Linked DNA regions of Homo sapiens: region 2 is linked to region 1. Evidence: fine-mapped expression QTL. A gene starts in region 1. The other region holds a variant in brackets. All regions are shown on one strand. Distances are from middle to middle. Region 1 holds the start of CYP4Z1 (cytochrome P450 family 4 subfamily Z member 1). Region 2 holds the start of CMPK1 (cytidine/uridine monophosphate kinase 1).

Region 1 (16,255 bases):
CTTTGTGAGTGTTTTTCAATTAGTTCTTAGAATTGTATTTTATAAATTTGAGGTGCTAAGTATCCCCTGCATGGCATGCTTTCCTGCTTTTACTGCTTATTCAGTGCCATCCCAGAGGACCTACGGGCAATCCTTGACCCTAACACAATCCTCATTCTGTTTCCAGAGCACTGCAATGTGGACTCGCATTTCTTCTCTCTCCTTATCTTTCTCTCTTTCATACACCACACCTGTAAACACATGTATATTCCTGACTACTACCAATATTTTTGCCCTGCACCAGAACCACATAAGTGGTTCCAGTATGTAGTGCTCTTTCTTGTCCCTACTCTACTCAGACCTATGTAGAGTCCTTTCTATAGTAATAGACTAGCACTCTTTACCTCCACAACCCTGGCAGGGACAGGCAGAGACAGGGGCCTATGAATATTATTTAACTATTTTTTGGTAGCAATATCATTATTTATCTTTCATGACAAGTAGATTCACTGTGGTGTTCTAATTTTTGTAGTTATTTATTTGAATACAGATATACATCTTAATAGTATGTATTTGCCCAACTTATAAAAGCCAGTGAAGGATAAAGGCTAATATAATACAATATAAATTAAATCATGAGAAATATTTACAAATTAATCTAAACTTTAAATAGAACAATTTGCAAGTATACATTTTTGAAACATTGCCTGAGATTCATAAGAACAAAGTAATCAAAGATACTAGCATATTTTGGCCAATAAATTTTATTAACAATTTTATACTTACATAATATTTTTATATGTCCCAATGCCTTCATAATTAATTCTGAGACATTTTTGCCTAAACCCTGAGGTTAACATTTTACATAAAGCAAAATAAGTTGCAGCTATAGAAGGTTACCATACAAATAGCCAGATAATTAAATGAAAAACAAACTTCATTTTGTGTTCTGTGGTTGAATATATAATCAAGGTAAAATGAAACACAAAGTTACTTTCTTTGTATCCTGAAGTCACTTAGAGCCTATCCAAATTTGGAAGATAGTTTTATAAAATCTAAATGGGAGATCAGCCATTCATTTCCAGTTGGACCCATGTGAAAACAATAATTTGCAACAGGCTGGCCAATAATTTCCTGACTCTGCCCATGTAATCTCCTGGAATTTGGCTACGTAAATATCATGTCTGGTTTTGGCATACCTGCTGTACTTCTCAATTTTCATGTCTAAACATCACCTGCTTGCATGTAGGAAAACCCAAAAGGCTTTCTCATACTGTGTATGAGAAGAACCTGATGAAAGAACATTTAATTTCCCTAATTTAGGTAGCAAAGAAGGCTGGGCTGTTTCCTAAGCATCCCCTGGGACGGAGGCTGATGGTCCCCTATGGGGCACTTTGTTTTAAGCAAGCATTTATCTGATCATGCACCTTCAGCCTGACTGTGAGTTTTAGAAAATTCTGCTCCCACCCTTTTCTCCTCTCCCCAAGACTTTTACTTGCTCATTATGTGAAGTCCAGGGCACTCTGCAAACATAAATATGAAATCACTCTTTTCTCCTTGAAAATTTATTTCATGAACCAATATTAAGTATGGCCAAGTTATGCTTGCATCATGTATTGGGAAATATCCTAGTTTTGTCTTGGATTCATTTAATAGATTTATTTATCTGATAAGCAGAAATTCATTTACATTTTTAAATATTTGTTAGACAAATTCACTTCATTTCTATGATCCCTTTCCAATGTTTGCTCAAAACTTCTTGTAAAATACTTTTCATATACTTTTTAAAAAATTAATAGATTATTGAATGTAAATGGGCTAAATGTCCCACTTAAAAGGCAGAGTGGCAAGCTGGATAAAAGAGCAAGACCCAATGGTATGCTGTCTTCAAAACACCCATCTCAAACATAATGAGACTCATAGGTTCAAGATAAAGGGATGGAGGAAAATCTACCGAGCAAATGGACATTAAAATAAAAGCAGGGACTGCAATCCTAATTTCAGACAAAACAGACTTTAAACTAACAAAGATCAAAAAAGATAAAGAAGGGCATTACATCAAGGTAAAGGGTTCTATTTAAGACCTAGCTATCCTAAATATATATTCATCTAATACAGGAGCACCTGGATTCATAAAGCAAGTTCTTAGAGACTACAAAGAGACTTAGACTCACACACAATAATAGTGGCAGACTTCAACCCTCCACTGTCAGTATTAGACAGATTATCAAGGCAGAAAATTCACAAAAATATTCAGAACCTGAACTCAACAGGACTAAATAGATCTGATAGACCTCTACAGGACTCTCTATCCCAAAACAGCAGAATATATATTCTTCTCATTGCCACATGACACATACTTTTAAATCAGCCACATAATAGAACATAAAACAATTCTCAGCAAATGCAAAAGAACCAAAATCATACCAAACACACTGTCAGAGCACAGTGCAATAAAAATAGAAGTCAAGATTAAAGCAATCATTCAAAACCATATAATTACATAGAAATTAAACAACAGGCTCCTGAATGACTTCTGAGTAAACAATGAAGTTAAGGAAGAAATCAAGTTCTTTGAAACTAATAAGAACAAAGGTAGAACATACCAGAATCTCTGGGACAGAACTAACAGTGTTAAGAGGGAAGTTCATAGCATTAAATGCCCACATCAAAAAGGTAAAAAGATCTCAAATTACCAATCTAATACCACAACTGAAAGAATTACGGAAGGAAGAGCAAATCAACTCCAAAGCTAGCAGAAGACAAGAAATAACCAAAATCAGAGCTGAGCTGAAAGAAATCAAAACACAGAAAACTATTCAATGTTTGCTTTCTGAAAAACATAATAAGATATATAGGGCATTAGCCACACTAATAAAGAAGAAAAGAGAGAAGATCCAAATAGACACAATTAGAAATAACAAAGAGGATGCTACCACTGACCCCACAGAAATAAAAATAACCATCAGAAACTACTATGAACACCTCTATGCACACAAACTAGAAAATCTAGAAGAGCAGAATAAATTTCTGGACACATACACCTTCCCTAGACTGAACCAGGAAGAAATCAAATCCCTAAACCGACCGATAATGAGCTTCAAAATTGAATGAGTAATAAATAGTCTACCATCCCAAAGAAGCCCAGAACCAGATTAATTCATAGCCATATTCTACCAGATGTACAAAGAAGAACTGGTAGCATTCCTACTGAAACTATTCCAAATAATTGAGAAGGAGGGACTCTGCTCTAGCTCATTCTATAAGACCAGCATCATCCTGGTACCAAAACCTGGCAGAGACACAACAAAAAAAGAAAACTTCAGACCAATATTCTTGATGAACATTGATGCAAAAATCTTCAACAAAATACTTGCAAACCAATTTCAGCAGCACATCAAAAATCTAATCCATGATGCTCAAGTAGGCTTCATCCCTAGGGTGCAAGGTTTGTTCAACATACACAAATCAATAAATGCGGATCATCACATAAGGAGAACTAAGTATAAAAGTCACTTGATTATCTCAATAGATGCAGAAAAGGATTTTGATAAAATTGGACATCACTTCATGTTAAAAACTCTAAATAAACTATGTATTGAGGAACATTCCTCAAAATAATAAGAGCCATCTATGACAAACCCATATTAGCATCATAATGAATGGGGAAAAGATGGAAGCATTCCCCTTGAAAACCAGCACAAGACAAGGATGCCCTCTGTCACCACTCCTATTCAACATAGTATTGGAAGTCCTGGCCAAAGCAATCAGGCAAGAGGAAGACATAGTTTGAAGATGACAGATAGCAGGCAGAACTAGCTTGCAGCTCCCACTTGGACAGAACAGTGTGTGAAGACTCACATCATGAACTTTTACTCCAAGAACCACTGCAGGAACATACCGGGAAAGCTAAGAGAATCTACAGACCTTTGAAGTAACTGGATTACTGCTGCAGGCTCCCTGAGAAGCCAAAAACTGTGATTCTGCTTCCTTTCTCAATGAGGAGGCTCGTGGTCTGGAGCAAGTTCTCAGCCCTGGTCACTGGCTGCCTGGAAATAGACTCATTGCAGCTGGGGAGGGCACAGTAGGAGTGAGACTGGCCTTTAGGTCTCCAGGCTGTGTGGGAGCAGGGTGAGCCCTCTGACTACCGGCTTTCCCCCACTTCCCTGGTGACCTGTATGACTTATCAGAGACAGCCATAATACCCCTGGGAATATAGCTCCATTGGACTGGGAACTACACCCCCATCCCCCACAACAGCTGCAGCAAGCCCCGCCCAAGGAAAGGCTGAGTTTAAACATGCCTACCCTGACCCCACCTTGTGGTCTTTCTCTACCCACCCTGGTAGCCAAAGACGAAGGTCATAATCACTTGGGAGCACTATGGCCCTGCCCACCACCTGAGAAACCTGAATACATAACCAGGTGTCTCTACAGCAAGTTTGCATCTTTCCTATAGGACCACAGCTGATGCACTCTTGAAAGTTCCATTTCCTGGCTGGAGGCCAACCAACACAAAACCAGTGCACTAACAAAAACAAAACCAAGGACCCTCACAGAGTCCACCTCACCCCTCTGCTACCTCCACTGGAGCAGGCACTGGTATCCATGGCTAAGAGACCTGAAGATGGATCACATCATAGGACTCTTTACAGACACTCCCCAGTAGCAGCCTAGAGCCTCGTAGCTCTGCTGGGTGGCTAGACCCAGAAGAGCAAAAATAATCACTACAGTTTGGCTCTCAGGAAGCCCCACTCCTAGGGGAAGGGGGAGAACATCACATCAAGGGAGCACCCCTTGGGACAAAATAATCTGAACAGCAGCCCTTGAATCCCAGATCTTCCCTCTGACATAGTCTATCAAAATAAGAAGGAACCAGAAAAAAACAATTCTGGTAATATGACAAAACAAGGTTTTTTCACACCCCCAAGAGATCATATCAGCTTACCAGCAATGGATCCAAACTAAGACAAAATCTCTGAATTGCCAGAAAAAGTATTCAGAAGGTTGATTATTAAGCTAATCAAGGAGGCACCAGAGAAAGGTGAAGTCCAACTTAAAGAAATCAAAAACATGATACAGGATATGAAAGGAAAATTCTTCAGTGAAATAGATTGCACAAATAAAAAACAATCACAACTTCTGGAAACTGAACACACACTTACAGAAATGCAAAATACACTGGAAAGTCTCAGCAATAAAATCAAACAAGCAGAAGCAAGGCCTTAACAGCTCAAAGACAAGTCTTTCAAATTAACCCTACCCATCAAAGACAAAGCAAAATAATTTTTAAAAATAAACAAAGCCTCCAAAAATTTGGGACTACGTTATATGTCCAAAACTAAGAATAATTGGTGTTCCCAAGGAAAAAGAGAAATCTAAAATTTGGAAAACATATTTGAGGGAATAATCAAGAAAAACTTCCCTGGCCTTGCTGGAGATCTAGACATCCCAATAAAAGAAGCTCAAAGAACACCTGGGAAATTCATCACAAAAAGTTCATCACCTAGGCACATAGCCATCAGGTTATCTGAAGTCAAGATGAAGGAAAGAATCTTAAGAACTGTGAGGCAAAAGTGTCAGGTAACCTGTCAAGAAAAACCTATCAGATTAACAGCAGATTTCTCAGCAGAAACCCTACAAGTTAGAAGGGATTTGGGTCCTTTTTTTTTTTTTTTTTTTTGAGATAGAGTCTCACTCTGTTGCCCACACTGGAGTGCAGTGGCGCGATCCCAGCTCACTGCAACCTCTGCCTCCTGGGTTCAAGTGATTCTCCTGCCTCAGCCTCCTGAGTAGCTGGGACTACAGGGCACACCACCACACGCCTGGCTAATTTTTCTATTTTTAGTAGAGATGGGGTTTCACCATGTTGGCCAGGATGGTCTCGATCTCCTGACCTCGTGATCCACCCACCTCAGCTTCCCAAAGTGCTGGGATTACAGACGGAGCCACAGTGCCCAGCCTAGGGTCCTATTTTTAGCCTCCTTAAACAAAACAATGGTCAGCCAAGAATTTTGTATCCAGTGAAACTAACCTTCATCAATGAAGGAAAGATAGTCTTTTCCAGACAAACAAATGCTGAGAGAATTCACTACTACCAAGCCAGCACTAAAAGAACTGCTCAAAGCTCTAAATCTTGAAACAAATTCTCAAAATACACAAAAATAGAACCTCCTTAAAGCATAAATCTCACAGGATCTACATAACAAAAACTCAATTAAAAAAAAACAAGGTTATTCAGGCAACAAATAGCATGATGAGTAGACTAGTACCTCACATATCAATACTAATATTGAGTGTAAATGGCCCAAATGCTCTACTTAAAAGAAACAGAACAGCAGAATGGATAAGAAATTACCAACCAAATTTCTGCTGTCTTCAGGAGACTCACCTAACACATAAGGACTGACATGAACTTAAGGTAAGTGGAAAAAGATATTCTATGCAAATGGACACCAAAAGTGAGCAGGAGTAGCTGTTCTTATACCAGACATAACAACTTTAAAGCAACAGCAGTTTAAAAAGACAAAAAGGGACATTATATAATGATAAAAGGATTAGTCCAACAGAAAAATACTGCAATTCTAAATATATATGCACCTAACACTGAAACGCCCAAATTTATAAAACAATTACTATGCGATAAACAACAACACAATAATAGTGGGGGACTTTAATACTCCATGGACAGCACTAGACCGGTCATCAAGACAGAAAATCAACACAGAAACAATGGACCTAAACTATACCCTACAACAAATGGACTTAACAGATATTAACGAACATTCTACCCAACAATTGCAGAATATACATTCTATTCATCTGTACATAGAACATTCTCCAAGATAAACCATATGATAGGCCACAAAACAAGTCTCAGTAAATTTAAGAAAATCAAAATTATATCAAGTACTCTCTCAAACCACAATGGAAAAAAAATTGGAAGTCAACTCCAAAAGGAACCCTCAAAATCATGAAAATACATGGAAAATAAATAACCTACTCCTGAATAATTTTGGGGTCAACAATGAAATCAAGATGGAAATTTAAAAATTCTTTAAACTGAACAATAATAGTGACACAACCTATCAAAAACCCTAAGATACAGCAAAAGCAGTGCTAGGAGGAAAGTTTATAGCATCAAATGCCTATATCAAAAAGTCTGAAAGAGCAAAAATAGACAATCTAAGGTCACACCTCACAGAACTGGAGAAAGAACAATCAAAACTCAAACCCAGCAGAAGAAAAGAAATAACAAAGATCAGGGCAGAACTAAATGAAATTGAAACAAAAAAAATACAAAAAATAAATGAAATGAAAAACCTGGTTCTTTGAAGAGATAAATAAAATTGATGAACCATTAGTGAGATTAACGAAGTAAACAAGAGAGAAGATCCAAATAAACTCAATTAGAAATGAAACAGGAGCTATTACAAACTGATACCAGAGAAATACAAAAGATTATTCAAGACTTCCATGAATGCCTTTATATGCATAAACTAGAAAACCTAGAGGAGATGGATAAATTCCTGAAAATATACCACCCTCCTAGGTTAAACCAGGAAGATATAGAATCGCCGAACAGACCAATAACAAGCAGTGAGATTGAAATTGTAATTTTTTTTAATACCAACAAAAAAAAAGTCCAGGACCAGATGGATTTACAGTTGAATTCTATCACACATTCAAAGAAGAAGTGGTACCAATTCTATAGACACTATTCCACAAGATAGAGAAAGAGAGCATCCTCCCTAAATCACTCTGTGAAGCCAGTATCATCCTAATACCGAAACCAGGGAATGACATAACAAAAAAAGAAAACTACAGACCAACATCTTTGATGAACATAGATGCAAAAATCCTCAATCAAATACTAGTGAACTGAATCCAACAGCATATCAAAAAGATAATCCACCATAATCAAGTGGGATGCAGGGATGATTTAACATACCCAAGTCAATAAATGTGATACACCACATAAACAGAATTAAAAACAAAACCACATGATCATCTCAATAGCTGCAGAAAAAGCATTTAACAAAATCCAGCATCCCTTTATGATTAAAACTCTCATCAACAAAACTGGCACACCTTAAGGTAATAAAAGCCACATAACAATAAACCCACAGCCAACATTATACTGAAAGGGGAAAAGTAGAAAGCATTCTCCTTGAGAACTGGAACAAGAGAAGGATGCCCACTTTCACCACTTCTATTCAACATAGTACTGGAAGTCCTAGCCAGAGCAATCAGACAAAAGGAAGAAATAAAGGGCATTCAAATTGGTAAAAAGGAGGTCAAACTGTCACTGTTTGCTGATGATATGATCGTATACCTAGAAAAGCCTAAAGACTCATCCAAAAAGCTCCTACAGGATGCAAAATTAATATACACAAATAAGTAGCTCTGCTGTACACCAGCAGCAACCAAGCTGAGAATCAAATCAAGAACTCAACCCCTTTCAAAATAGAAAAAAAAAAAACTTAGGTATATACCTAAGATTTTGGGTGACGATAATGTGTCATTGTAGGTTCATTAAATGTAACAAGTGTTATACTCTGGTGGAGGATTTTGATAATCAGGGAAGCTGGAAGGGAGGGGTGATATATGGGAACTCCCTGAACTTTCTGCTTAATTTTTCTGTGAACTTGAAACTTCTCTAGAAAGATAAATTCTATCAGAAACATAAACAAAAAAGAACAGAGAATGAGAGTGGGGGAGATTTTTTACAAGAATGTATAGAGGTGTGACAAAGGATGACTAGATGGGAACTTTTAGATTCTGGAAGGGGACAGCAGTGCAGCAAAGCTTTCATATGGGTGTGAGCTGTCATGCACATGGCTCCTATCTGAAAATCTTGTTCTTCTAGAATCCAGGTCTGCTGGCCAACATCTCAGCAGTTTTCACCCTGCAGACTTAATTAGGCTTCCTCTTCCTTATGTCCCCTCCCTGAATATGGCATTTTGAAAGCCCAGTGTTGCCCAGGGGGCATCTCCTTTGTGTTTATGAGAGACCTGCATTCTCCCTGGCTCAGTTCTCTCAGGCTCTCCAGAGCTCAGGACCTCTGAGAAGAATGGAGCCCTCCTGGCTTCAGGAACTCATGGCTCACCCCTTCTTGCTGCTGATCCTCCTCTGCATGTCTCTGCTGCTGTTTCAGGTAATCAGGTTGTACCAGAGGAGGAGATGGATGATCAGAGCCCTGCACCTGTTTCCTGCACCCCCTGCCCACTGGTTCTATGGCCACAAGGAGGTAAGAGGAGAAAATTAGTTGGGGAGGTTAAGGGACAGAAAGATGAGGTATTAAAAAAAAACAGCACAGACTGGTGGGGCATTATGTAATATGCAAAATGCTTTCACACCAATCTCATTGTGATTTTTACAAAAATTCTATGATATGGGGAGGAAAGATATTGTTATTCCTGTTTTACAGATAAGAAAACTGAAGCCTAAAATAGAAATGCAACTTTCCTGTGCTACCCACCTCATAAATGACAGAAATGAAACTTGAACCCTGGTCTTCTGATTCAAGGCCAAGGTCTTTACTATTCTCAGGACTCTGGGTGTTCTAGAGAGAAATAGACCAAGCCAATTGTTAACAGGAACTATACCAAGATGCTACAGCTTCTAATGAAGCTGGAAATAGGAAAACATTTAGCAAATTAGAAAGGAAAGTTGAAAGATGAGCAGCAACCAAAAGGAGTAAAAGGCATGTGAGACTTCGCTGCTTTGGAGGCAGATAAAGCATGAGTGGGTATATCCAGAGCAAAGATGAGGTAGGGCATCAGTGGTTACTAACGGTTTACCTTGTGCCAGGAATTTTATGTTTATAATTTCACTTAATTTTCATGGCAGCTTTGTAAAATATATTTGGTCTTCCTATTATACACGTGAGGAAATCATGGCCCTGATGACCTAGATAATGAATAAGTGTCAGATTGGGATTTGAACTTAAATCTCCAAAGTTGACGCTGGAGTGAGAAGACCAATCGCTCAGCAACAGGTCCTGAGCACTTGCCCAGGGCCACGAAGATTCTGTGGAGGTGCTGGAGACACATGGAGAAGAAAACTTGCCTTCAACAGATGTGAACCTGTCTGATGGGGTGGTGTCCACAGATCCTCAACTTAGCACATGGTCCATCCGAGGGAAAGGGGTCCTCCTGGGGTGACAACCTTTACTAACCAGTCATGACTTATCTTATGACAGTTTTACCCAGTAAAGGAGTTTGAGGTGTATCATAAGCTGATGGAAAAATACCCATGTGCTGTTCCCTTGTGGGTTGGACCCTTTACGATGTTCTTCAGTGTCCATGACCCAGACTATGCCAAGATTCTCCTGAAAAGACAAGGTAAAAACCAAGAGGGGCTCACAGTACAGAGCAGCAACAAAGAGGGTCTCAGGGTGTCTGTGGCACTAGGGAAGGACAGGTTGAAGCATTTTTAAGGGAAATCCATCATTTGATATGTTGAAGGGAAGATTCCATGTCCTCCTCAACATCATAGTCAGGACTCTATTGAGGGCTGTTGTAGAGGATTCTCTGATCCATTTTCAAGCAATCTTCTCTCCCTACATGGCAAATTTTTTCTGATGCTTCCATCACATTTACTTACCTCAGACCCCCAGGACTACCACTTACCATCACTGTGAACATACAGTGGGTTGGGCATGCAGTGGTGGTTTGCTTACAATTGGCTTAACGCCAGTGCTGCACAGAGATGAGTGTTCCCCATAGATGCTTTGCCCACTAATGTTGCCTGTCCTCTGGGAATGGCCAGTGCCAGGTTGGAGGCTCTGGCAAGTGGACACCAGTTCTCCATCTGGTCCCTAGTGTGGGAATTCCGTGGAATTGCAGAGCTGCTTCTTGGCCGTGGCAAGATGTGTGTAGGATTCCCCCACTGGGCTTTCCTCAACTGCCTGTTGGCATATAAGGCTGGCCTTCGCCTCACTCTCCCAGCTACCTACATGAGTCATTCAGTTATAAAATGCCTCCATACCACTCTTGGTGCTTCTGCAAAATTTCAAGCAGCCTGTGGCTCTCTCATTTCACAGGGCACTCTGCCAGAATCACCATCTCAGCTTTCTTCCTGGTAATGGTGCAAGAAATGTCTGGCTATCCAGTTTCAAACTTTACTCTGCTCCCCTTTATGCTCTGCTCTCACCTTTGGACCTTTGCCCAAAAGGGATGAAAGAGGAAAGTGATTGTTTCTCCTTTGGAGTTATTTTCTCTTCTTTATCTACAAATTCTCTCTTCAGTGTGTTCACTCCCTTGAGAAGGGAGGCTTAGTTTCTGGCTGTTTTTCTTTTTTTGTGGTTGGTTGTAAGGGCATCTGGGCAGGCCATACAGGGAAAGCCATCCTTCCTGTTCATATTTTCTTCAGTCCCCATTGTCTTCAACTCACAACCTTAGCTCCTTCCCAGAGAAGCCAAGAATTTCTCTCCCTCTCTTGCTTTTTTTCTCTTACTGTTTTGTTTTCTTTTCCTTTGGTTTGTATTCCCTGCTGGTGCCTAAAATTGTCTCCTCCTCAGAGAAAAGGATAATTTTATGCCTTGAAGTGTGATAACTGTACAGTTACATGAGAAAAGAGCAGAATAATATACAGAGTATGGGATGTTAAGTTATTTATCTGCCACACATTAGTACTTCTTTTTGAGTCCCACTGCAGAAGCACGGTGGCCAAAAAAGGAGAGCTGAGAATCCTGCTCTTATTATTTCTGGCCAGACCCACCCAAATCATCTTATCCCCAGCTTTTTATTTTGAAAATTTTCAACCCTACAAGAGAAATTTTGAACACCCATTGTACCCTTCTCTAGTGTCATTAATTGATATCATATTCCCATATGTGCTTTTCTTTTAATTACATTCATTTTATTGTGGTAAAATATACATAAACTAAAAATTTACCATTTTAAATCACTTTTAAGTATACAATTTAATGGCATTAAATACATTTACATTGTTGTGCAACTATCACCGCCATCCATCTTCAGAACTTTTTCATCTTCCCAAACTGGAACTCTGTACACATTAAACTCTAACTCCCCATTTTCCCCTCCCCCCAGCCTCAGGCAACAACCATTCTACTTTCTGTCTTTTTAAATTTCCCTATTCTAGGTACCTCCATAAGTAGAACCATACAATATTGTCCTTTTGTAACTGGCTTATTTCATGTAGCATAATGTCCTCAAGGTTCATCCATGTTGTAGTATATATCAAAACGTCCTTTCTTTTTAAGGCTGAATTTCCATTGTATGTATGTACCACATTTTGTTTATCCATTCCTCTGACAATGGACACTTGGATAACTTCTATCAGTTGGCTTTTGTGAATAATGCTGTCATGAACATGCATGTACAAATATCTGTTTGGGTCCTTTCAATTATTTCAAGTTGATACCAAAAAGTGGAATTACTGAGTCACATGATAATTCTATATATAATTTTTTGAAGAACTGTGATAGCATTTTCCACAGTGGCTGCACCATTTCACATACCCACCAGCAATGCACAAGGGTTCCAATTTCTTCACGTTCTCACCAACATTTGTTATTTTCTGGGGATTTAAAAAATAATAATAATAGCTACAATGGCTCACACCTGTAATCCCAGCACTTTGGGAGGCCAAGGCAGGCAGATCACTTGAGCCCTGGAGTTTAAGACCTGAGCAACATGAAAAAATCCCATCTCTATTTAAAAAAAAATAGACCAGATGCAGTGGCTCAAGCCTATAATCCTAGTACTTTGGGAGGCCAAGTCAGGCAGATTACTTGAGGTCAGGAATTCAAGACCAGCCTGGCCAACATGGTGAAACCCCGTCTCTACTAAAAAAAATACAAAAATTAGCCAGGCGTGGTGACACATGCCTGTAGTCCCAACTACTTGGGAGGCTGAGGGAGGAGAATTGCTTGAACCTGAGAGGCAGAGGTTGCAATGAGCTGAGATAGTACCACTGCACTCCAGCCTGGGTGACAGAGCAAGACTTCGTCTCAAGAAAAAAAAATAATAAAAAATATGTTGTATTATTTAAACTAATACTAATAATAGCTATCCTAATGGATGTGAAATGGTATCTTATGGTGGTTTTTATTTGCATTTCTCTAATGATTAATTATGTTGAACATCTTTTCATATGCTTACTGGCCACTTATATATCAACTTCGGGGAAATGTCTATTCAAGTTTGCTGCACCTTTTTCAATTGGTTCTTTGGTTTCTTTTGTTGTTGAGTTGCAGTAGTTCTTTATATCTTCTGGATATTAATCCTTATCAGATATATGATTTGTAAATATCTTCTCCCATTCTGTTGGTGTCTTTTTTACTCTGTTGATAGTGTTCTTTGGTGAGCAAAAGTTTTTTATTTTATCAAGTCCAGTTTATCTATTTTTTCTTTCACTGCCTGTGCTTTTGGCATCATATCCAAAAAATTATTGCCAACTCCTATGTCATGAAGTTTTCCTTATGTTTTCTTCTAAGAGTTTTAAGTTGTAGCTCTCACATTCAGTTCTTTGATTCATTTAGTGTTAATTTTTTATATGGTATAAAGTCTGCATTTGCTCATAGATGGATGGATGATAGATAGATAGATAGATAGATAGCCAGAGCCAAACAACTTTTTATGCATAAGTTTTATCTGAGTTAATAGAGGTTAAAAAAATAGGGATTTTCTATTTCTTCTCCATTTTTCAGCTTTCCCTATCTATAATGAGGAACTTTCCTCCTCTCCCCACCCCCATCTGCCTTTCTCTCACTGTCTCACTTTCTGTCCCTCTGTTTCTCTTTCTGCATACCAGTAAGGATTCATGGATTGTTAAGAAATCAGTGTATTGAATTTCATTATCATCATCTTTTTTGATGGCCAAATTGTCCCAGATATGGAGAAGGAGACAAAGCAAGAGAAGAGGCTGGTAGACATGGGCCCAGTCATTCAGAACTTTGTAGGCTGAGTAATGGTGAGCATCAAAGGAGAGAAGTACTGTGAATATCTGTGTGTTTTGAAACATCACTCAGACAGCTGTATGATGAATGGCTGGAGGGAATCAAGGCTGGAGACCAGGAATCCACCTTATCCTGCTGCACTGTCCAAAGGACAGATGATGGAGGCCTGGACAAAGGTAGAGGGGTGGAGGTGGAAATAATTGTATGAATTCAAGAGATACTAATGAATGTACCAATATTTTTGACATGGGGGTATCAAGCTGTCAAGCAGTCCCTAAGCTACTTAGCTGGTTCACTGCACATTCATAAATTCAGTCAGCAAAAAGCCAGTGGGCCTGAATGGATTTAGACTGTTTATTACTCATGGCATAATAGGTATCATGAGCTTCACATTAACATCGGCCCCACTATCTCCCTAAGTCCTATAGGGGCAATGGAGAGGAACTCAGGTTAGTACTGTGCACACCAGGGTCTGTGTTACATTTGAGGAATTCAGACACTACAAGATCCTGACCATATATAGGGGCTATTGCCAAAAATGCTCTTCCTCACCCCTAGAAATAGGCATTGTCTTTTATGTGTGTGTGGCAAAATACACATAAGGTTTGCCATTTAACCGTTTTAAAGATCCAATTCAGGGACACTAAGTATATTCACAGTGCTATCCACCTATCATCTCTGTCTAGTTCCAGAATTTTTCATCAGTCCAGACAGAAACCTCATACCAATTTTAAGCAGTTATTCCCCATTCCTCCCTTGCCCCAGTCACTGGCAACTACTAATCTGCATTTTTGTCTCTATGAATTTACTTATTCTGGATTTTTCATATAAATGGAATCACACAATATGTGACCCTTTGCATTTTGCTTTTTTCACTTAGCATAATGTTTTCAAGATTCATACATTTTGTAGCATTGTTTCTTTTCATGAATTATATTCTACTGTATGAATATACCACATTTTGTTTATGCATTCATCTGTTAATAGACCTTTGAATTGTTTCAACTTTTGGCCATTATGCATAATGCTGATTTCATAAAAATGAAAAGCTTTTGTGTGTCAAGGGCCACTAAAAGCAACCTGTGCCTCCTGGGTTCAAGTGATTCTCCTGCCTCAGTCTCCCAGGTAGCTGGGACTACAGGCGTGCACTACCAAACCTGACTAATTTTGTATTTTTAGTAGAGATGGGGTTTCACCATGTTGGCCAGGCTGGTCTCAAACTACTGACAAGTAATCCACCCGCCTCAGCCTCCCAAAGTGCTGAGATTACAGGCATGAGCCAACGCACCAGGCCAAGACCAATTTTATTTTAATTTGCATTTCCCTAATGACTGAATATCATCTTATTGTTTGCCCATTGATGCTGAATATCATCTTATTTGTTTGCTGGCCCATTGTTTATCTTTGGAGATGTCTATTCAAGTCCTTTGCCCGTGATTAATTGGGCTGTCTTTTTATTGTTCAGTTGTAATAGTTTTTAAATATATATAGTACACAAGTTTTTTTATCAGATATATGATTTGCAAACATTTTCTATTATTTTGTGGTTTGTCTTTTAACCCTTTTAGTGGCCCTTGATACACAAAAGCTTTTCATTTTTATGAAATCTAACTTATTTATTTTTCCTTTTGTGGCCTGTGCTTTTACTATCATTTTTAAGAAACCATTGCCCAGTCCAAATTCATGAAGACCCTCCCCTATTTTTTCTTCTAAGAGTTTTATAGTTTTGACTCTTATACATAGGTCTTTAGTCCTTTTTTTGGGTGAAAGAAGCCTAAAGTAGGGGCATTTGTTTATTTATTTATTTATCTTTTATTTTAGATTAAGAGGTACATGTGCAGGCTTCTTACCTGGGTATACTGCATGATACTGTGAAGTTTGGGGTATAAATGATGCCATCACCCAGGTGCTGAGCACAGTACCCAACAATTAGTTTTTCAATCCTTGCCCCCTTTCCTTCCTCCCCCACCCCAGTAGTCCAGAGTGTCTATTGTTGCCATCTTTATGTCCATGAGTACTGAATGTTTAACTCCTACTTAAAAGTGAGATCATGAAGTATCTGGTTTTCTGTTCCTACATTAATTCACTTAGGATAATGTCCTGCACCTGCATCCATGTTGCTGCAATGATGTGATTTCATTGTTTTTTTCCCCCTTTGGTACATTTTTAGTTAATTTTTGTATATAGAGTGAGATAAAGGTACACTTAATTATTGTGCCCACAGGTATTTAGTTTTCCCAGCACCATTTCTTGAAGAGACCATTCTCCCCATTGAATGGTATTTGCATCCTTGTTGAAAATGAATTGACAACAGATGTATGGGTTTATTTTTGGACTCTGATATCTA
Region 2 (16,255 bases), 260 kb after region 1:
TCATTCTCTGCTTTCCTGAAAAAATTCTTGGCATCTAGGGTACAAATTTTAAGGGGAATGATGGTCAGTTCCTGAGCTCTAGTGTGAGAACAGGAAGGGCCTCAGACAGCCATGCATGTCTGACAAACTGTTGGCCAGCCCAATAAGGAGCTCCAGAGCAAAGATTGCCCATTACAGGAGTCCCACATTAGGCAGAAATGGCTAGGCCCTAGAATTCTTGCTGTGCCTAGTCATTGCCTGAGGCTTCCAAGAAAGAACAAGCACCAAAGCTAAGGCAGATTCCAAAGGAGGCTGTCAGGCAACTGCAGTCTTTGCAGCTGACTGGAAAGTTCTTTCTGGAAAGAGATCTAAGTCATTGAGATCACTGACACATCTCAATGACGGCCATTGGTTACATGAAGTGCAAAGGCCCTGAGTTACATGGGAAGCCTTTGGAAAATTTTTTTTTTTTTGAAACAGAGTCTCACTCTGGTGCCGGGCCTGAAGTACAGTGGTGTGATCTCAGCTCACTGCAACCTACGACTCCTGGGTTCAAGTGATGAACCCTGCCTCAGCCTCCGAGTAGCTGGGATTACAGGCACCCGCCATTACGTCCAGCTCATTTTTTGTATTTTTAGTAGAGACAGGGTTTCACCATGTTGGCCAGGCTGGTTTCGAACTTCTGACCTCGTGATTCATCTGCCTCAGTCTCCCAAAGTGTTGGGATTACAGGCGTGAGCCACCACCCCCAGCCTGGAAGATTTTATATACAGGACTGACATAATCTGATTTTAGGTTTTTGTTTGTTTTGTTTTGTTTTGTTTTTTGAGATGGAGTCTCGCTCTGTTGCCCAGGCTGGAGTGCAGTGGCGCCATCTAGGCTCACTGCAACCTCCGCCTCCCAGATTCAAGCATTTCTTGTGCCTCAGGCTCCCGAGCAGCTGGGAATACAGGCCCCTGCCATCACGCCCAGCTAATTTTTGTATTTTTGGTAGGGACGGATTTTCACCATATAGGCCCTGCTGGTCTCAAACTCCTGATCTCAGGCAACCCTCCCTCCTCGGCCTCCCAAAGTGCTAGGATTACAGGCGTGAGCCACTGCGCCTGGGTGAGGCTATGATTTTAGGTTTTAAAAGGACCATTGATTGCTATATTGAGAATAGACTGTTTGGGGCAAGGGCAGAGATGCAAGGGGACCAGTTAAAAAACTGCTGCAATAACTTAGAAGAGAGATTGATGGTAGCTTGGACCAGAATGGTAGCAATGGAGGTGGTGAGAGGTTATTGTATTCTGGATATATTTTGAAGGAATAATCAATACTATTTGATTCCAGATTGAATTTAGCATGTAAAAGAAAGGAACGCTGTGTCAGCTTCTCATGATTTATGATTTTCTTTAAAACTACTTTGATATTAGAAAGAGAAATGTAGTATGAGTTAGATAAAAAGGAAGGGGTGAGCCTAACACATAACCCCCCACTCCTTAGGTGTGGGCTGCACATAATGACATTTCTTCTAAGTGTATAGTATTGGGTTGGGGGAGAAAGGCAGAGGGAGGAAAGTGACTTTACAATGGGAAAACCTGACAAACACTACTTCAGGTGGGTCATCAAGCCAACCTCAATAGTTATGCTGATAGTAGGTACACTTCTGTTTCCTTTTTTTGTTTTTTAGAGACAGTGCCTTGCTGTTGCCCAGGCTGGAGTGCAGTGGCACAATCATAGCTCACTGCAACCTCAACCTCCTGGTCTCAAATGATCCTCCTACCTCAGCCTCCAAGTAGCTGAGACGACAGGAGGGTGCCACCATGCCCAACTTTCTTTTTTTCCTTCAGTAGCAAGTATTCTGTCTATATTGTCCAGTCTGGTATTGAACTCCTAGCCTCAAGTACTGGGCCTCCAAAGTGCTCGGATTCCCAAAGTGCTGGGATTGCAGGCGTGAGCCACAGCACCCAGACTACTATGCACACTTGATATGATGTGATTAAAATGGCACTTTAGGCTGGGCACGGTGGCTCATGCATGTAATCCCAGCACTTTGGGAGGCCGAGGCAGGCGGATCACCTGAGGTCGGGAGTTTGAGATCAGCCGGACCAACATGGAGAAACCCCGTCTCTACTAAAAATACAAAAAATTAGCCAGGCGTGGTGGCACATGCCTATAATTCCAGCTACTCGGGAGGCTGAGGCAGGAGAATTGCTTGAACCCGGGAGACGGAGGTTGTGGTGAGTCGAGATCATGCCATTGCACTCCAGCCTGGGCAACAAGAGCGAAACTCCGTCTCAAAAAAAAAAAAAAAGGCACTTTAGGCCAGAGGCGGTGACTCACGCCTGTAATCCCAGCACCTGGGGAGGCTGAGGTAGGTGGATTACTTGAGGTCAGGAGTTCGAGACCAGCCTGGCTAACGAGGAAACCCTGTCTCTACCAAAAAATATAAAAATTAGCCGGGTGTGGTGGCATGCGCCTGTAGTCCCAGCTACTCAGGAGGCTGAGGTGGAAGAATCGGTTGAACCCGGGAGGCAGATGTTGCAGTGAGGTGAGATCATACCACTGCACTCCAGCCTGGGCGACAGAGTGAGATTCCGTCACAAGAAAAAAGCAAGGGGCACTTTATCTCTGTGGTCTTCCTCCCATTAACCTATAACCTTGTATTATTCTGAGAAAGACAGACAAATTCCAATAGTGAGGAATCCTGTAAAATGCCTGACCTGTACTCCTCAAAACTGTTAAACTCATCAAAAACAAGGAAATCCTGAGAAACTGCCAGAGTCAAGAGAAGCTTAAAGAGATATGATAACTAAATGTAATGTGATACCGTGGATGGGATCACGGACCGAAAAAAACCTCATTAGGTAAAAACTAAGAAAGTCTAAATATAGACTTTAGTTAATTATAATGTACCAATATTTGTTCATTAACTGTAACAAATGTACCTACCATACTAATATAAGATGTTAATAATATGAAAAACTGGGTGTAGGGTATGGAACTTCTGTACCATGTTCTCAATTTTTCTATAAATATAAAACTTCTAAAAAAAATAAAGTATTGTCTGGTACACTCGCTTGCGCCTGCAGTCCCAACACTTTGGGAGGCTGAGGTGGGTGGATTGCCTGAGCCCAGAAGATCAAGGCCAGCCTGGGAAACATAGTGAGACCCCATCTCTATTCATTATAAAATATAATTTTTAAAAACAAACAAAAATCCTTCCAGTAAGAGACAATAGCCAAAAAAAAAGTGTTTTAGAGGCAAATTTTTTTTTTGAAACGGAATCTTGCTCTGTTGCCCAGGCTGAAGTGCAGTGGCTGGACCTCAGCTCACTGCAACCTCCACTTCCTAGGTTCAAGCAATTCTCCCTGCCTCAGCCTCCCAAGTAGCTGGGATTACAGGTGCCTGCCACCACACCTGGCTAATTTTTGTATTTTCAGTAGAGACGGGGTTTCAGGATGTTGGCCAGGCTGGTCTTGAACTCCTGACCTCAGGTGATCCGCCCACCTCGGCCTCCCAAAGTGCTGGGATTACAGGTGTGAGCCACCGTGCCTGACTGAGGCAAATTCTTAGGATTAAAAAAATTAAAGAGTCTATTACAAAGAAAAAAGGAAAGTACAAGGTGAGAGCTGAGGCATGTGCTAATCTTTAGAACAACTAAAATAGCATGTCTTCCTTTTTGCTTAGTAATAACTCAAATACCAATGAGAGTTCAATTAAACATTTTATTAACACTGGACTTTTTTTTTATGGAGTCTCGCTCTGTCTCCCAGGCTGGAATGCAGTGGCATGATCTCGGTTCAAGCAATTCTCCCTGCCTCAGCCTCCCAAGTAGCTGGGATTATAGGCAACCGACACCACTCCCAGCTAATTTTTGAATTTTTAGTAGAGACAGGGTTTCACCATTTTGGCCAGGCTGGTCTCGAACTTCTGACCTTGTGATCCGCCTGCTTCGGCCTCCCAAAGTGCTGGGATTACAGGCGTGAGCCACCATGCCTGGCCTACCACTGGACTTCTAAGCAGGATATACACTTAACACTATGCATAAATACTTTTTGACTGAAATGAAAAGTAATTATTGACTTCATTTTAGGATAGGAATGATTCAGCATTATATTTAGGAGAGCTTGGAAGTGACTAAAGAGCTTATTTCCCCAGATGTTTTCTTTTTTTTTTTGAATTATAATGCAATAATCAATAGCTTTGGGGATCTGACCCCAATTCTGCCATTTAATTTCTCTGAGATTGATTTTCCTCATTTGCATATTGTACATTATCATAAAAAAGAGTTAATGCATAATGAGTGTGAAAGTTAAAGGGGCCACCCATATATTATTATTAGTCTAGGTGTACTGGCAGTTGACATTATTAATAAATGAGCAACACATTGCCCTGTGTTCAAAGAGATTAAGGGAACTGATTTGTTAAATTAGAAAGAGAATAAGGGCTGGGCGCAGTGACTCACATCTGTAATTCCAGCACTTTGGGAGGCCAAGGTGCACATATCACCTGAGGTCAGGAGTTTGAGACCAGGCTGACCAACATGGTGAAACCCTGTCTCCACTAAATATACAAAAAAATTAGCCAGGCATGGTGGCAGACGCCTGTACTCCCAGCTATTCGGGAGGCTGAGGCAGGAGAATCTCTTGAACCCGGGAGGGGAGGTTGCAGTGAGCCGAGATCGCGCCACTGCAGTCCAGCCTGGGTGACAGAGCGAGACTCCGTCTCAAAAAAAAAAAAAAAAAAAAATTAGCCAGGCGTGGTGGCGCACGCCTGTAGTCCCAGCTACTCGGGAGGCTGAGGCAAAAGAATCGCTTGAACCTGGGAGGCCAAGGTTGCAGTAAGCCGAGATTGCGCCACTGCACTCCAGCCTGGCGACAGAGCGAGACTCCATCTCAAACAAAAAGAAAGAGAATTAAGTTTAATGGAATAAAATCTACAAATGCTATACCAAGGACCTACTATACACTAAGCTTTAGTGCTAGCTGGTATGGGGAGTTGAAAGGACATGATAAGCATAGAACAGGGAAGGCACAATTTTATAGGCTGTGTAATAAGAGGTAATTACCCAAAGCAAATATGAATAATTGTTAGATGACAGGCCAGTTTAAATAGACTGAAGAGATACCATGCTAGTCTTTGATCTCTGTTTATATATATTTATGTGTCATTTCTTTTTTTTTCTCTTTTTTTTTTTTTTTTTTGAGATGGAGTCTTGCTCTGTCACCCAGGCTGGAATGCAATGGCGCCACCTCGGCTCACTGCAACGTTCGCCTCCCGGGTTCAAGCAATTCTCCTGCCTCAGCCTCCTGAGTAACTGGAATTACAGGCACCCACCACCATGCCCAGTTAATTTTTGTATTTTCAGTAGAGACGGGGTTTCACCATGTTGGTCAGGCTGGTCTCAAACTCCTGACCTCAGGTGACCCACCCACCTCGGCCTCCCGAAGTGCTGGGATTACAGGCGTGAGCCACACCGCACCTGGCCATTCATGTGTCATTTCAAGACACTGTGGAATTGCTATTACTTTTGGCCCTTACAGAGAAAAGCTACTGGTTTTATTTTTTAAATTTCCAAGTTCTTTAGTTTGCTTCACAGATAACCATTTCCAGTTTGTCATTTTTTTAAAAGTATGAATTTGTTGCATAAACAATGTTATAACAAGAAAAAAATTGTAAAAGGAAAAATTCATCCAGAATTCTATATTCTAACTGCTGTAGACTGAATATTTGTGTTCCCCACAAAATTCATATGTTGAAGTCCTAACCTCTAATATGATAGTAAGTAGCTGGAGCCTTTGGGAGGTGATTAGGTCATGATGGCAGAGCCTTCATGAATGGGATTAGTACCTTATAAAAGAAACCTCCAGAGAGCTCCCTTGCTCCTTTCTGCCCTGTGAAGTCACACGGAGAAAATGGCTGTTTATGAACCAAGATAGCAGGCCCTCACTAGATACCAAATCTGCCAGCTCCTTGATCTCTAACTTCCTATCTTTGAGAGCTGTGAAAAATAAATTTCTGCTGTTTATAAGCTACCTGTTTATGGTATTCTGTTATAGCAACCCAAAGACATCAATTGTTTTTCCTTATTCCTTTTCAGTCCCTGTCCACATGACATGGTCTTTATGATTAGACTAAGTAAATGTTCAGTGCTATAAACCCTGATGGTGCCTGCTAACAGACTGGCTATGGGGATTAAAGAGCTATTGTTATCACCAGGAACAGGGAAGTTGGAATCTGTTATTTCTCCTCTTCCTGGTTCTGTTACTTATTACTGTACTAAGTTTCTCCAAACACCCAACTTTCCCTTTCTCAATTTACACTTCTAAGCTAAATTGTACTACTGATTTTTAAAAACAACTACAGCTTTGCTTTTAAGACACATATTTTTATTTTATTTATGTCTTTTTTTTTAAAAAAAAAGATGGGGTCTCTCTCTGTCACCCAGGTGGGAGTGCAGTGGCACGATCTCAGCTCACTGCAGCTTCAACTTCCTGGGCTCAAGTGATCCTCCCACTTCAGCCCCCTCTCCGTCCCAAGTAGCTGGGACTACAGGCGTGCACCACCACACCAGGCTAATTTTTGTATTTTTTTGTAGAGATGGGGTTTCACCATGTTGCCCAAGGTGGTCTCAAACTCCTGAGCTCAGGAGATCTACCTGCCTTGGCCTCCCAAGGAGTGCTGGGATTACAGGCGTGAGCCACTGCACCCGGCCTTAAGAAACATATTTTTAAAGAAGATTGCTAATCTGTCAATTTATGCCAAATTCCTTTTAGACACTTAAAAATCTTAGAAGAGGCAACAATTACAATTTATGTCTCAAGTCATGTTGACTTATTTTACTTATTTTTTAAAGTTTGGATTATTTGGAATGAATACAATGATCAAATATCACATACTGGTAAATTCTCTAAAAGTATTTGCTAAACTGAGCTAATGTACCATCATCCTGATTTTGCAGACAAAGAAATTGCAGGTATAACCAACCTACCTAAGCTTGTAAAGTTAGCAAAGATGCTGTAAATTCAGCTAAAGACAGTCAGTCTCCCTTCACTGGTCTGCCTGCAGTTCTGCAGTATGAAGCTAAGCTCAGCTGACAAAGTCACTCCCAGGAGAGCAGTCATATTGTCTGCTGCCAGATTTGTCACATCACATTTTTTTTTTTTTGAGATGGGCTGGGCGTGGTGGCTCAGAGATGGAGTCTCACTTTGTCACCCAGGCTAGAGTGCAGTGGCATGATCTCATCTCACTGCAACCTCCACCTCCCGGGTTCAAGCGATTCTCCTGCCTCAGCCTCCCAAGTGGCTGAGATTACAGGTGTGTACCACCACTGCCAGTTAATGTTTGTATTTTTAGTAGAGATGGGGTTTCACCATGTTGGCCAGGCTGGTCTCGAACTCCTGACCTCAGGTGATCCACCCACCTCGGCCTCCCAAAGTGATGTGATGTGGGCCAGACGTGGTGGCTCACACCTGTAATCCCAGCACTGGGAGGCCGAGGTGGGCGGATCACCTGAAGTCAGGAGTTTGGGACCAGCCTGGCCAACATGGTAAAACCCCATCTCTACTAAAACACAAAAAATTAGCTGGGTGTGGTGGTGTGACCTGTAGCCCCAGCTACTGGGGAGGCTGAGGCAGGAGAATTGTTTGAACCCGGGAGACGGAGGTTACAGTGAGCCGAGATTGTGCCATTGTATTCCAGCCTAGGTGACAGAGCGAGACTGTGTCTC[C/CA]AAAAAAAAAAAAAAAATACTATGTTTCCCTGAACTAATGTTCAGAATCTTTGAGAACAGGTCCTTTGATAAAGCCTCACAACAATAACCAAGCAAATCTGAGTAGCAGGGACCTTCATTTTAGAAACTCTATTAAGTATCAGGTTATGCAATGTACTAAGCATCACTCCAGGAAATAGATTACAATATAATAGACAGCTATGAAGGCCTGAAGACAAAGCATGCACCTGCTTGCTTAAGAGAGTGAATCATGTAACAATAACACACGGTCATGCTCTTAGTTCAATGCTGTACAAAGAGTAATCAGACAGAGTCCCTTCCTTCATAGAGCTCTAAATCTAGTGTGGAGATACCCATAACAACATAGGCCTACAACAGAAATAACAAGGGACGTGATGGGGGAGGGTAGAAGCACAAAAGAGGTACACCTAACCCAGTCTTGGGAGGTTGTTTTTTTTTTTTTTTTTTTTGAGACGGAGTTTCGCTCTTGTTGCCCAGGCTGGAGTGCAACGGCGTGTGCCTGTAATCTCAGCTACTTAGGAAGCTGAGGCAGGAGAATTGCTTGAACCCAGGGGGCGGAGGTTGCAGTGAGCCGAGATCGTGCCACTATACTCCAGTCTGGGCGACAGAGCCAGATTCTGTCTCAATCAATCAATTTTTCAAAAGAGATGGGGTCTCACCATCTTGCCCAGGCTTGTCTTGAACACCTGAGCTCAAGTGATCCTCCTGCCTTGGCCTCCTAAAGTACTGGGATTACAGACATGAGCCACCATGCCCAACTTTTTTTCTTTTCTTTTTTTTTTTGAGACAAGGTCTCACTCTGTCATCCACGCTGGAGTGGCATGATCACTGCTCACTGCAGCCTCAACCTCCCGGGCTCAAGCAATCCTCCTGCCTCAGCTTCCTGAGTAGCTGGGATCACATCTGTCTAATTTTTCTAATTTTTTCTAAAGACAGGGTCTCACTAGATTGCCCAGGCTCAAGCTGAATTCTGAAACATGAATATAACATAGGCAGCAAAGGGGAGTAGTCAAGTCTGGGAAAATGAAAGTATGGGAACAGATATCTATCTCTAAGAGGCAATTATGATAAATAGGATTGATGAATGGTGACAAAGCTTATTTCCTAATCCCCTACAAAGGGTGCTAGGAACATAGATATACCCTGGGAATAGTATGCAGGTACTGAATGTATGTGAAAAGACCTAATGTACTCAATGATAAACATCTATGGGTAAGGGTGGGTTTTAAGGATAGCTCTTGCTATACATCTTTCTGAGATCAGTCTTCTGGTCTGTAACATAACATATTTTGACGGGATTTTTGTGAGTATGGAACTTTTCATGGAGTCAGTGTTGTATAGAAATGCACATTTTAAAGTCATACATGCTGAATTTGAATTTGACTTTGTCATCTATTGCCTTGTGGGGTTTTTTTGTTGTTGATTTTTTTTTTTTGAGACGGAGTTCCACTCTTGTTGCCCACGCTGAAGTGTCATGGCGCGATCTTGGCTCACCGCAACCTCCATCTCCCAGGTTCAGGCGATTCTCCTGCCTTAGCCTCCCGAGTCGCTGGGATTACAGGCGCCCGCCACCACACCCGGCTAATTTTGTATTTTTAGTAGAGACAGGGTTTCTCCAAGTTGGTCAGGCTGGTCTCAAACTCCCGACCTCAGGTGATCCACCTGCCTCAGCCTCCCAAAGTGCTGGGATTACAGGCGTGTGGTGAGCCACCGCGCCTGGCATTGCCTTGTGGTCCTGGCTCTATGTAAAACGATAGTACTAACTTCACAGCATTATGAGAATTTCATAGGCAAGGCAAGGCTGATATTTAACTAATACCCAACTGGAAAGGCTGTATTGGTGATTAAAATATTGAAACACGCGGGGCGCGGCGGCTCACGTCTGAAATCCTAGCACTTTAGGAGGCTGAGCTGGGTGGATCACTTGAGCCCAGGAGTTTGAGACCAGCCTGGGTAACATGGCAAAATCCTGTCTCTACAAAGAATAGAAAAATAAGCGAGGCATGGTGGTGCATACCTGTAGTCCCAGCTACTCAGGAGGTCGAGGCTAAAGTGAGCTGTGATGCGCCACTACACTCTAGCCTGGGCAGCAGAGTTAGACCTCGTTTCAAAAATAAAGAAACAACAAAAATATTGAAACATTTACATATGAGTTGGCATATGGCTACTTCCCTAAGCACTTCCAGTGTCCTCCAACTCTCCCCTGGGACACACTGGACCTCCCCACAATCTAGCAATTAGAAGATATCTGAGGCCAGGTGCGATGGCTCACACCTGTAATCCCAGCACTTTGTGAGGCCGAGGAGGGCAGATCACCTGAGGTCAGGAGTTCAAGACCAGCCTGACCAACATGGCAAAACCCTGTCTCTACTAAAAATGCAAAGTCAGCCGGGCGTGGTGGCGCATGCCTGTAATCCCAGCTACTCAGGAGGCTGAGGCAGGAGAATTGCTTGAACCCAGGAGGTGGAGGTTGCAGTGAGCCGAGATTGCACATTATACTCTAGCCTGGGCAACAAGAGTGAAAGTATGTCTCAAACAAACAAACAAACAAAAAGACAGCACAGAAATCTTTACAGGTATTCTGATAGATTTATTTTAAAAGTTGGAATATTATCCAAAAAATGCCTGGCACATAGTAGACATTTTTTTTTTTTTTTTTGAGACGGAGTCTCGCTCTGTCACCCAGGCTGGAGTGCAATGGTGTGATCTCGGCTCACTGCAACTCCGCCTCCCAGGTTCAAGTGATTCTCCTGCCTCAGCCTCCTGAGCAGCTGGGATTATAGGCACCTGCCACAATGCCCAGCTAATTTGTATTTTAGTAGAGATGGGGTTTCATCATGTTGGCCAGGCTGGTCTCGAACTCCTGAGCTCAGGTGATCCACCCATCTTGGCCTCCCAAAGTGTTGGGATTACAGGCGTGAGCCACCATAGTATACATTTAATAGATATTAATCAAATTTATTTAGCCTATAGATTCAATCTATGGATATAGTTAGGAAATGCCCCTTTACTGGGTGACATCCACTTATTCTATATATATTTATTGGGACATACTATTATTGCATATCTGGTGGCTTACCCCTAGGTGTAATTCAATGCTTCTCTGCCACCTCCAAGGAGCACTAATATATGGCTAAGACAAAATGGATTCCTTGGAGACAAATTAGGATCAAGATGCTAAGTGGTAGACCTTTCACTGTGGACAAGCAATAGGATTGAATTTTCAAGCATCAGTGTAGTATTGTGTCTTTTATTAATTCCATGTACTCGGCTTGGCCCCATGTGACTGCCAGTGTGATCAAATAGGCCCAAAGCTACTTGGAGATCCTAACTTCCTTGGCTTATTTCTCTTTTTGAGTGTTCCTGTTGATCTGGTCTAGCTTGCCAGGGAGGAGTCTAAGAGAGGGAAGGTCATCTAGGCCTCCCTTGATTATACAAGAGAGTTTTCTCTAAGCTCTATAAGATCCATCTCAGCTTACTAAATCTAAGGTTCCACAGAGGGCTTTTGGACCCTGTAGAAACTTTAAAACATGGCACCAAAATTCCTGACACTCCTCTTGAGAAGTAGGGCCTATGTACCCTCTCCTTGAATCTGGGCTCTGTGTGTGGTTGACTGAAAGAATATGGTGAAAGAAGAGTTGCTGTGGCAGTTTCTAAACCGAGGTTTTAAAAACTGGCAGTTTCTACTCCCCATCTCCTGGAATGTTTACTCTTGAAGAGTAACATTTAGCCATCATGCTGTAAAAAGAAACCTAAGCAACTCATGGTAAACTCCATGGTCTTTAGGGAAAGAGCGTTTCCACAATGTTAGGGAGAGCCAAGAAAAATTTAAATAGTGTATTTTCCAGCTTCCCGTCTCTACACCAAAATTAAGTATTGACACTCACAAGAGGAAAAAAGTTATCCTCTGTCAGCCATGTGAATGAGCCTTCTTGGATATGGATCCTCCAGCCCTCAGCTGAGCTGCCCCAGCTGATGCCATGTGGGATGAAGATTAGCTGTCCCCACTGAGCCCAGCCCAATTTTCAGGTAATAGGCAAAATAAATGTTTCTTGTTTTGGCTGGACGCCGTGGCTCACGCCTGTAATCCCAGCACTTTGGGAGGCTGAGGCGGGCGGATCACTTGAGGTCAGGAGTTTGAGACCAGCCTGGCCAACATGGTGAAACCCCATCTCTACTAAAAATACAAAAATTAGCCGGGCATGGTGGCGGGTGCCTGTAATCCCAGCTACCCAGGAGGCTGAGGCAGGAGAATCGCTTGAACCTGGGAGGCAGAGGTTGCAGTGAGCTGAGATGGTGCCACTGCACTCCAGCCCAGGCGACAGAGCAAGACTCCATCTCAACAACAACAACAACAAAAGGCAGGGCTTGGTGGCTTATGCCTGTGATCTCAGCACTTTGTGAGGCCGAGGCGGGCGGATGACCTGAGGTCGGGAGTTCGAGACCAGCCTGACCAACATGGAGAAACCCCGTCACTACTAAAAATACAAAAAAATTAGCCAGGCGTGGTGGTGCATGCCTGTAATCCCAGCTACTTGGGAGGCCGAGGCAGGAGAATCGCTTGAACCCGGGAGGCAGAGGTTGTGGTGAGCTGAGATTGTGCCATTGCACTCCAGCCTGGGCAACAAGAGTGAAACTCTGTCTCAAAAAAAAAGAATGTTTCTTGTTTTAAGTCATTGATTTGGGAATGGCTGTTTTGTAGCAATAGATAACTGGAACAGACTCAAAGGGCCAACTAGTCATAAAGTGTTTTTTTGCCTCACCTTGTCATTCCTGGAAATGACTCCCTGGAAAACCCTTCGCAGAGATGGGTGTCTGGGTTTCAGTTTTTAGAAATCTTTCCACATTAATATTTTCCTTAGTTGCCTAACATAACTGGCAGAAGGAGACAGGCAAGGAACAGGACATTAAGTACTCAACCAACTGTGGTCATAATTATCCAGAAAGTTTTTTTCTCTGTGAAAAAAAAATCACCACATATTGCTTTAAGTAGGTTTACTAGGAAGTTTCAGACCCAAACCCCTGTGTGGAATCCTTAGTTCTGGTGTTCTATCATGGAAACAACAAAGACTGTCTTTTTGTCTCTAGCCCAAGGCCTTCACTAAAAGTATGCCAATAGCTTCCTAGCCCTTTTTCTCACAGACACCATATCCTTAAGATCTTTTAACTCTAATTGTGTGAACAAAGGAAAAGAAGACACATTTGTTTTGATATGGCCTTTTTCATACTCCTGCTACCCATTCCCAATATGACCAATTGTCCTTGTTCTTGGCTGCCCATGTCCTAGCTCCTCCTCCCCAGAAGCTGAAGGGTTTGGAGCCTTCTTTTTTTTGAGACAGAGTCTTGCTCTGTCGCCAGGCTGGAGTGCAGTGGTGCGATCTCAGCTCACTGCAACCTCCACCTCCTGGGTTCAAGCAATTCTCCTGCCTCAGCCTCCCAAGTAGCTGGGATTACAGGCATGCACCACCACATCCAGCTAATTTTGTATTTTTAGTAGAACTGGGGTTTCACCGTGTTAGCCAAGCTGGTTTCCAACCTCAGGTGATCTGCCCACCTTGGCCTCGCAAAGTGCTGGGATTACATGCATGAGCCGCTGCGCCCGGCCGTGTTTTTTTATGTGAAAATTCACATATCTAAACGTGGGTCCCTGTTTTTGTATAGCCTTCAAGCTCAAAATAATGTTCACATTTTAAAATGGATTTTAAAAATAAAAATAAATAATATTTTGGGACACATGCAAATTATATAAATTCAAATTTCAGTATCCATAGAAAAATGTTTTGTTTTTGTTTTGAGACAGGGTCTGGCTCTGTTGCCCAGGTTAGAATGTAGTAGCACGATCTTGGCTCACTGGAGTTTGCACCTCCTAGGCTCAAGGGCTGCTCCCACCTCAGCCTCCACCTCCTGGGCTCAAGGGATCCTCCCACCTCAGCCTCCCATCTCAGCCTTCCGAGCATCTGGGACTACAGGTGCACACCACCACCTGTAGTGTAGTGTAGGCCTGGCTGGGCGCGGTGGCTCATGCCTGCAATCCCAGCACTTTGGGAGGCCAAGGCAGGAGGATCACTTGAGCCCAGGAGTTCAAGACCAGCCTGGACAACATGGTGAAACCCCCTCTCTACTAAAAATACAAAAATTAACCAGGGGTGGTGGCAGGTGCCTGTAATCCCAGCTACTTGGGAGGCTGAGGCAGAAGAATCGCTTGAACCTGGGAGGTGGAGGTTGCAGTGAGCCAAGATGGCACCACTGCATTCCAGCGTGGGTGACAGAGTGAGACTCTATCCCCCCCAAAAAAATTTTTTTCCAGCTGTGATAATAAAAAATATCCCATTCTCCTTTCTATGGTGGGAAGGAAAAGGTAGAAGTTGTGGAGAGGAAAGAGGTAGAAATTAAAGGGAGAATGGAAAAGAAGGGCAAACAAAGGCAAGTAGGTGAGGAGAAGGACAGGAAAAGAGACAGGGAGAAGGGAGGGACTTATAAATGGGAAAAGAAGGGTAGGAAGGATGGGAATAAGTAAAAACAACAACAACAAAAAGAAAGCAAGGAGAGAGAGTAGAGATGGGGAAGAGCCAGAAAATGCTGAGTGAGCTAAGAAAGGACCACCAAAAGAAAAAGGAGAATGGGGGTGGTCAGACAGAGGGCTATACCACTATCTTCCTCTCCTGTTTGCTTTCGTTTACTAACGTCCTGGTCACTCTGCCCTAAACAGCTTAGTTCCTTTCCCATAGTCTTTGTTCACTCCAGCACTATCTGACTTGAACTTGTACCTGTACGACAAATCTAACACCCTGGACTCTTAGTTCTAAAAACAGGACATGCATTCTGCCTCAGTCTTCCATTCCCATGGTCTCACCCTGGACCTTGGCATCATCAGAAACTCAGAAGCTGGGACATTTCAATTCCAAATATCCCACTCAGACCAGCAGCATCCATACTGCCAGAGCACTTGCTCATATACCCCACTGCAATCTTTCTTGGGCCAATGCTCTAAGACATTGGTCCCTTTCCCCACCACCCTCCAACCCCTCCACTACCAGGCTTCATGTGCCATTATTTGCTTTCCTGTATGGTTTTGATTCTACACACAGCATCATGAACATTCTCTTCCAAACACTCTCATCACTTGGCCCCCTCTCTCTGTTGTACTTGCCAGGCAAAATCCCAACCCTCAGTAAATGCAACAAGCTGCCTTCTCTGCCTGTGCCTGAATGGCCAAACATCTTCAATTATTTTGAATCCGTTACCTCAAATATCAAATGAGCTCTTAACGTTGGCCAGAAGGCCTTTTAAAGGCCTGTATGCACCAAGGCTCAGTTCTTGAACGTCTCCTTTTCTTCTCCCTTAAGATTCTTCCCTAATGAAGGGGGCAGGCGAACGGAGTTAAAGGGCTTCCATTGCTGTTAGAATACAGCCCAAATTCCTTTCCATAATCAAAAGTCCTGATCTGCCACCGACCTCACTTTCTCAACTTTTCACCTTCCATTCTCCCCTCATTTGACTCAGCCCTGGTCTCACTGTCACTGGCCTTTTTTCCTTTTTTTTTTTTGAAGCAGTCTCATTGTCACCTAGGCAGGAGTGCAGTGGTGCTATTACGGCTCCTAGGCTCAAGTGAACATCCCAGTAGCTGGGATCACAGGCACGGGTCACGGTGCCCGGCTTTTAAATTTTTGGTCGAGACGGGGTCTCGTCATGTTGTCCAGGCTGGTCTCGAACTCCTGGGCTCAAGCCATCCTCCTGCCTCAGCCTCCCAAAATGCTGGGATTACAGGCGTGAGCCACCGCGCCCAGCCAGGCCTTCCTTCAATTGCTTTAACATGCCAAACCAACTTAGATTTTTTGCACATGCTTTTCTCTGTGGGACACTCTATCCTGGTGTTTGCCTGGTTTCGCTCTTTTCTATCCTTTTGTCTTGGCTTGAATGTCACCTCTTCTGAAGCCTTCTCTGGCGACCCTGGCCATCTTATGTCCTACTTGTTATTTCTTCAAAATCGTACTGCCTTTTGTATGTACTGGTGTTTACTCATTCACACTGGCTACCTCCCCATACCTCACTGGCTGGAATGGAAACTCATTGCGAGCAGAGACAATAGGTTTTGCTCTCCCGCGGATCACGTCCCAGCCTCCAGCTCAGCACCAGACACTTGAGGGCGCAGGATAAAATATCTGCAGTCAGAAAGCACTAATAACCACCCAAGGGTTGGAGGAAAGCTGGCGCGGACCGCACGAGTGTCGCCGAGACGCCGCCGCCGTGCGAAGCTCCTCCCCTTCCGACAGGGCCGCGGACGCCCGGGCAGCCACGGCGGCGGGGCCGCGGCGGGCGCCGGCTCAGCCCGCCCCTTTCTCCCGCCGCCTCCCCGCCCCGCCCCGCGCCGCGCCGGCCGCTGTCAGCTCCCTCAGCGTCCGGCCGAGGCGCGGTGTATGCTGAGCCGCTGCCGCAGCGGGCTGCTCCACGTCCTGGGCCTTAGCTTCCTGCTGCAGACCCGCCGGCCGATTCTCCTCTGCTCTCCACGTCTCATGAAGCCGCTGGTCGTGTTCGTCCTCG

What was found. PIP is the estimated chance that this variant, and not a neighbour inherited with it, causes the effect.
Region 2: its variant is the best candidate, but not a certain one, in a credible set for the expression of CYP4Z1 in skeletal muscle (FUSION, PIP 0.87).

Annotation. Positions count from the first base shown.
Region 1 is chr1:47,058,440-47,074,694 of GRCh38, forward strand. It overlaps CYP4Z1 (cytochrome P450 family 4 subfamily Z member 1), which reads left to right and starts at 8,792. Exons shown (of 12, transcript NM_178134.3): 1 at 8,792-9,228; 2 at 10,183-10,324. The coding sequence starts at 9,052.
Region 2 is chr1:47,317,815-47,334,069 of GRCh38, forward strand. It overlaps CMPK1 (cytidine/uridine monophosphate kinase 1), which reads left to right and starts at 15,976. Exons shown (of 6, transcript NM_016308.3): 1 at 15,976-16,255. The coding sequence starts at 16,132. RefSeq lists a silencer at 15,889-16,255 and an enhancer at 15,915-16,255. The variant C/CA (reference allele first, on the strand shown) is at 7,694.